Homo sapiens: one gene and its partner. The protein of the gene in region 1 purifies or fractionates together with the protein of each later gene. This does not show direct contact. Each region holds a gene or a part of one and is shown on either strand. Other genes may lie near its edges.

Region 1 (3,651 bases):
ATTTTATTGCCTTTATTTTGTATGCATATTTTGAATAGTTCTATAGTTTATGTATTGTGTTGTATATTTTCTAACTTGACAGCATATAGTTTTCCATATTGCTTTATTAGATTCACAAAGTGTGAATATCTTTGTGAATCTTATAAAGCAATATGGATTCTTAAAGGATACACATTATATTCCAACATATCCAATAGATGAAGTATTTCTTAGCTGAAAAATCTTCTTGTGACTGGATATTTAATTTGTAGGGTTTTCTTTTGTTACTCGGCTATTATATCTATATATGAACTATATATGTTACTTAGGTTATTAGATGTTTATGAACTATGTATGTAAGTTATGATATATGATGATAAATGAATATTATTTAACATGACACTAGTCCACATTGGAATTATTTCTTCAGGGTTTATTCCTAAGAAATGAAAATTGTGAGGCAAAGAGTTTACGTATTTCATTTCCTTTGTTCACTACAGAGACGTTAGTTTTTAATCCAAACAAAAATAAAAACACAGGGAGGATTTTGAGCAGAAGAGGAGGTGATTTTATTCATGGTATGGTGAGAATACTCCAACTGCTGTATTGAGAATAGATTAGAAGCAAGGAACCAAGCTGAAGGTTACTGCAGAAATTCAGGCAGGAGATATTGGTAACTAGAACCACATGGAATTAGCTCTTAGCCAAAAAATAACAGTGGCCCTTGTGAGAAGTTGTTGGATTCTATACACATTTTGAATATGAAGACCATAGTACATTCCAGATCAAGGATTGCAAAGTGTTTGGAAGAATGAGATTTCTATCAACTGAGCTGGGGAAGACTCTGGGTAGAAGTTTTGAGGTGGTAGGGCTCAAGAGTTTGGTTTTGGACCTATTCAGTTTGATCTGTTAATCAGTTGATCAATTGAGTTTTAGTGGAACAAAAATTACGATGTATCAATGGTGTCTTCAGTTTGACAAAATGCAGTATTATTGTATTATATCTATGCTTTATTTTAATTTAAAACATGCTATTGCACCAATAGTATTTTCCACTTATGTAACCAATTATCTTAGCAGTACTAATTACATGATCTAGTTTTCTTCCATTAATTGCCACAACACCATTTACACACTGCATGATTCTTTTGGATGTTTTTCTATTGTTCCTTAGATTTTTCTGAGTATTCTTATTCTTCAATACAATAATGTCTTAACATTTTAGTCTCATGATAAATTTTGTAATGCAAATATTTTTCAATACCTCCCAAAATTCTTGTATAGTCATTCAACTAGGCTTTATTATTTTTTGCCAACTGTACTCATTTTCTATTTCTGCATGCATATTACCATAAACATAGTAGTCTGAAACAACATACATTTATTATCTTACAGTTTCTGTGGCTCAGAGCTCCAGGCACAGTTTGGCTTAACTGGTTCTTCTTCTCTGGGTCTCACAAGGCTACAATTGATTGGTTGATTAAGTTGCATTCTCATCTGCAGTATAGACTAGGGAAGAGCCCACTTCCAGGCTTATTCAGGTTGTTGGAAAAATTCATTTTCTTATACCTGTATGACTGAGGGCTCTGGCTGTTTGCTAGATTTTGGCTGAAGGCCATTCTCAGGTCTTAGAGGATGTTTGTGGTTCCTTATCGTGTTAGGTTCTCCAACTTCCTGCTTACTTCATCAAGCCCACATGAAGAGTGTTTATCTTTAGTCTGCTAAGATGGAGTCTTATATAACATAATGTAATCATGGGGGTGACGTCCCATCACCTTTGCCGTATTCTGTTGGATACAAGCAAGTGAAAGGTCCTGGCCCCATACAAGGGAAGGGAATTAGATAAAAGTGAGGATACCATGAGGTGGTAATCACTGGGGCCACCTTAAGGTCTGTCTGTCACATCAAATTAAGAAATAAGCTTTCTGGATTCTGAGTACAGTAGTACTGAATTCATTAATATAACCTCTCACATTCAAAAACCTATGATTTCATGGTGTCAGTGCCCTCTTCCAGTAGTTAAATAGAATACCCTCAGGTGCTTCTTAATTTACAATTTCTCACATGCATACAGACCCACACATTCTTGTATAGCTAGGGGTGATCACAAAAAAATTTAACAGACAGCACATCACTGGCACCAATCTATTAGAGTAGGCACAACTGGTATAGTTCATTCAGAATGGACACAGGACACAAATAACTTTTAAGGACACAAATAGTGGGCTGTAGGAAACACTTAACATCTGGCAAGCACCAGACTAAGCCTTTTAAATACACTCTCTAGTTAATCTTTCAACATTCTCATGAGGCAAATGTTCAACCTCCTCATTTGTAAGCCATTAGTCTCTTGGTTTGCTGATACCCTTTTTGGTAGCTTTTGACACCTGGGATCCCAAGGGAACTTGGGAAAATCAGAGGCCACAAGAACTCACAAATTATTAGTTGACTTGATTGATAGAGGAAGTCACCACCAGTGCTGAATCAGATTGAAAAAAACCCTTACAAAGATACTATGTTTCAGTTAATTCACTACAAAGACTTGTACTTCATCAATAGAAGATAGCATAGCCATAAGGGGAATCCTCCTTTATTAATCTCAAGGCACCTCTTTATCCCACATCACAGAGCCACATAAACCCTACAGCTGGGTGCACGTGGATTGTATTAATCACAGAAGTATTCTCATGGAATCATCTTGGACAAAACAGAAGCCACCATATATATGTGCTACAGTAGTTAAGAGCATAGACACATGAGCTACATTGTGAGCTGGTCTCTCTGTGCCTGTGTTTCTTCATCTGTAAAATAGTAGTAATAGCTGCTTCATAGCGTTATTGTGAGGATTTGACATCATGTTACATGACCTATCACAGACATTTGAAGTACCTACTGACTTCCTCTTCCCTGAAACTCTTGTCCCCTTGGCTTCCAGGACACCGCACTCTCCTGGTTTTCTTCTTATCCCACCACCCATTCCTTTTCACTTTCCTTTGTTTGTTCCTCCCCCATCTATTCAACCTCCAAACACTGAAGAGCCCCAGAGTTAGTCTTTGGTTCTCTTCTCTATTTATTTCAATTTCCCAAGTTTTATGGCTTTAAGTATCTTCTGTAGGTTATTAACTCCCAATGTTATGCCTCAACTCCTACTTCTCTTCTAAACTTAAGAACTGTATATCCAACATGCTCAACATCTTCTCTTTGGTGCCTAAGAGGCATCTCTGTTTTAACAAGTCCAGTAGGAAGCTCTTGACCACCCTACCTTACAAACCTGCTCCTTCCAAGAACTTTCTTCCTAGGAAAGCAGAACTTCATTCTTCTTGTTGTTTAGAACAAGAACCTCTCAAACTCCCCTTCTCCTTGCCTTCCACCCACCTGTAAAACTGAAACTCTTATTTGGTGTTTTTTCCACGCTGGGATTTATCTGGGGTCTGACCACATCTTAGCTACTGCCATGACCCTAATCCAAGATAGCTTCACTTCTCTTCTGAATTATTGCAATAGCTTCCTAACTGTACTTCCTCCCTATCGTTTTGTTCTCATTTCTGCAGCCAAAGAGATCCTTTCAAAATGTAAGTCATATCATGTCCCCCTTCTGCTGAAAACCCTCCAGTGGCCCCCATCCCACTCAAAGTAAAAGCCAAAGTACCTGCAATGGCCCACATGTCTTGA
Region 2 (3,651 bases), on another chromosome or scaffold:
GCGCGGAGCCCCCCTAGGAGACTGCCGATTTTATGTCAGTGTTGAGGTTGTGGAAACAGGCCCAGAAAGTTAGGAAGTTCTCCCAGGATCATGTGGCAGATAAGCGGTAGACTAAGTAACAACTTTGATAGGAAAGTGTCTCTTGGGTTTAGTGGGGTCCTTGTAAACAGGTACATCTGTCACTGGGTTGGGTCATTCCTCTCCCTTGACTGCTGACAATTCTTTCCTGAATCCTGGCCTCAGCTCCTGGACAATCCCAAGTTCCGGGTGATCACCAAGATCAAAACCATTGGCAGCACGTATATGGCGGCTTCAGGAGTCACCCCCGATGTCAACACCAATGGCTTTGCCAGCTCCAACAAGGTAGCTAACCCCAGTAGCCAGAGAGATGAGGCTCTGCCCCCAAGGCAAGAGATTGGCAGCCCAGACCTAGCATGGGGGAAATAAGAACTGCTGTGCAAAGTGGTCCCAGACACACACCACCAGCACCACGTAAATATAAATAAGAAATAGGGTTTATTGAGAAAGTTCGGCAAGCAGAGAAACAGAACAGACACACAACCCCCTGCTGTTCACAGCTCAGGCCTAAGATGGTTGTGTTCTGTGGCCAGGCCCCCTAAGGCTCTGTGCTTTCATAGGAACTGGAGAGCAATTGTCAACAAGGGAAACTGAAAGCATGGCCTTCAGAACTCTGGCTGACGGCAGCCTGTTCTTTTGTTAAGCTAATTTAGACCTTTGTTCAGCTACCAGGAGAGAAAATTAGGTGTAGGAGCCCTGGTCCCAAGCTCTGGTCTTAAAACACCATCATCCTGCTTTACCTCTACAACCATCCCACGGCCCTATTATATGGATGAGGTTAAAGAAACACGTCCAAGGCGGGTCATCCCCCTCCAGTGCTTATCACCTAGTTGAGGGATCCAAACAAGGACAACCTGACAAAACCTAAGGACCAGGACCAGGCCCAGCCAAGGTGAAGGGGTCCGCCTCGTGGTCAGACTCACAGGTCCGTCTCCTCTGCTCAATTGCCCAGTCTTTGCCTAGACCTGCTACGTGAACTTTGTCACAGTGGCAAGTCAGAGCTAGCGTGGCTGCGACTCCTTTGTGGGAGGAAAAGTAAGGCCTTGAACATCTAGGTGTAGGGAATCCACCCCCAGAACACTGCCAGGGAAGGCAGCAGAGCAGGCTGCTGCAGTGAGCGGCCCCTGACACTTTCTCCACGGTCCCCTGGCACAGGAAGACAAGTCCGAGAGAGAGCGCTGGCAGCACCTGGCTGACCTGGCCGACTTCGCGCTGGCCATGAAGGATACGCTCACCAACATCAACAACCAGTCCTTCAATAACTTCATGCTGCGCATAGGTGAGCACCCCCAGCTGGCCTGCCCCGCAGCAGGCTCCCTTCCCATGCAGGGGCCTGGCCCACCACCAGGAGAGACATGAGGCTCAGGACAACTGAGGCAATTCGGGTGGGGAGGTTCACGCACTCACAGGGCAAGGAGACCTGAAAGACCTTTAGTCCAGACGACTCTAGATGACTAAACCAAAAACCCAGCTGATGTGATGATCCGACTATACTGTGCCTACTGTTACAATAGAAGCTTGGCCTGCCTGGCTGAGAAGTGAGTTTGTGATCCATTTCCAGAGGGGTTGCTGTGCCTGCTGAGGACATGGCTTCCCAGACAGGCCTGCTCTTTGAAAGGAGTTAAGATCACCTGCTGCTTCTACTGAGGGGGTATCATTCCTGAGTGAGGTCCCAGGAGACTTGAAATACCAGCTGTGTTAGAAGCTGGCCACTACCATGCCGAGTAAATCTGCATATGGGGGGGGGGTGGCGGCTGACACCTAACAAGCACACGGATAAACAGGAGATGTGATTTCCACCCTCCAATAGCATACAGCCAAGTTGAATGAGGACAATGATGTGTTACATTAGGAGCTTTGTGGTACAGGTCTGGAGAGGAGATGGCTTCTGAGGCCCATAACAAGGTGTGGCCTGTGGCTGTGCTGAACTTTATGCCTCTACCCTAGGCATGAACAAAGGCGGGGTTCTGGCTGGGGTCATCGGAGCCCGGAAACCACACTACGACATCTGGGGCAATACAGTCAATGTAGCCAGCAGGATGGAGTCCACGGGGGTCATGGGCAACATTCAGGTATGTCCAGTGGCACAGCTGGCACGTGCTCAGACTCGGCATGAGAACAAAACCGGAACAGTGCTTTCCCACGTGCCCCTGCCTCCCACCCTGGCCCTGAACAGTAAGTCCAGAGGCAGAGACGTGGGGCAAGTGGAAAAGAATCTCTGCAATAGCTAGCCTCAGCACAGGAAGAAACACTTCCACCCATCCACAAAATCTGGGCTGAAGTTCTAGATGCATATGGCCTACCTTTGGGTATGAACCTTCTAATACCTTGTGATCTGTCTCAGTGGCGTCTGGCAGAAAAGCTCCACGAAAGGGGCAAAGGGACAGAAGAGCAGGCAGTGGCAGTTTCCAGGTAACAGTGCTGCCACCCAGGTGACCATGGCCATCCTAGGAGAGAAGTCTCTGGATGAGAGGAGGCCCCCAGCCAGTCACTCCAGGGTTCTCCTTCCCACCCGCTGCTCGCCACGGGTGGAAGGGCTTGGCCCTGGGAGGTTTGGGGAGTGTCCCGTACTGCTTGGGACCCATGGATCAGTGCTCGGCTCCAACCACCCAAAGCCCCCACCCGCCCTCAGTCTAGGCTCCCCCCGTAACGCCACGTTCTTGCTCCCCCTCCCTCTCCAGGTGGTAGAAGAAACCCAAGTCATCCTCCGAGAGTACGGCTTCCGCTTTGTGAGGCGAGGCCCCATCTTTGTGAAGGGGAAGGGGGAGCTGCTGACCTTCTTCTTGAAGGGGCGGGATAAGCTAGCCACCTTCCCCAATGGCCCCTCTGTCACACTGCCCCACCAGGTGGTGGACAACTCCTGAATGGCCTCGAGCCTGCAACAGTCCAAACCGGAAGGGAGAATTTATTTTTTGAAACTGAAGGAAGTCCCGACCTTCCTGGATTGAAGTGCACACTCATGGACTTTAGGTTTAGAAACCTCCTCAGCCTTCATTTGTTCGTGGATGTGTGAGCTCTGAGGGTGGCCCTGCTATTCCTGTGTGTGCCTGTAGTGTCCCCAGCATAGGGGTCTTAGGCATAGGGCTGAACAGTCCTTCCAGAGCCCTCGTTCCAATCCCTGCCGTCCTTGCCCCTGAGGGGCCCTGACCACTGTGAGCAGGAGGGTGGCAGAGCTGGGACAAAGCTGCCTTTGCCGCTGGGCTTTCCGGGACTGTGGAGGGAGCACAGGCGGGGAAGCTCCACTTCAGACAGGGCTTGGTGGGGCAGGACATGGCTCCCATTTTGAAGGGAGGTCTCCATGTGGTCCGAGTGAGGTGAGACGGCCCTCGTCCTGGTGTTCCTGATCATCTTGAAAGGTTCTTCTGGAACTCCTGTCCCCTTAGTCATGAGAACAGAAAGTGCAATATTTCCTTTCACCTGGCAGGGGAGGGGGGATTTATTTCTGAAAGAAAAATATATAAACAGATCTTCTACATTTATATTTTTAATCTTCTGTTAAATACACTTTCCGATATTGCCTTGCCTTTTGAGCTCTTGCTACAGTCGCCTTTGCTACTGCTTTAAGAGAATTTA

What was found.
Region 2: the proteins of SLC17A3 (region 1) and ADCY3 purify together in Homo sapiens (affinity purification with mass spectrometry; one large-scale study listed by BioGRID and IntAct). This does not show direct contact.

The regions. Positions count from the first base shown.
Region 1 is NC_000006.12:25,864,241-25,867,891, reverse strand, and holds part of SLC17A3 (sodium-dependent phosphate transport protein 4), read left to right. Parts: intron 1-3,651.
Region 2 is NC_000002.12:24,819,223-24,822,873, reverse strand, and holds part of ADCY3 (adenylate cyclase type 3), read left to right. Parts: intron 1-243; coding exon 244-363; intron 364-497; exon of another isoform or gene 498-1,233; coding exon 1,234-1,357; exon of another isoform or gene 1,358-2,025; coding exon 2,026-2,150; coding exon of another isoform or gene 2,151-2,309; exon of another isoform or gene 2,310-2,422; coding exon of another isoform or gene 2,423-2,494; exon of another isoform or gene 2,495-2,759; coding exon 2,760-2,942; 3' UTR 2,943-3,651.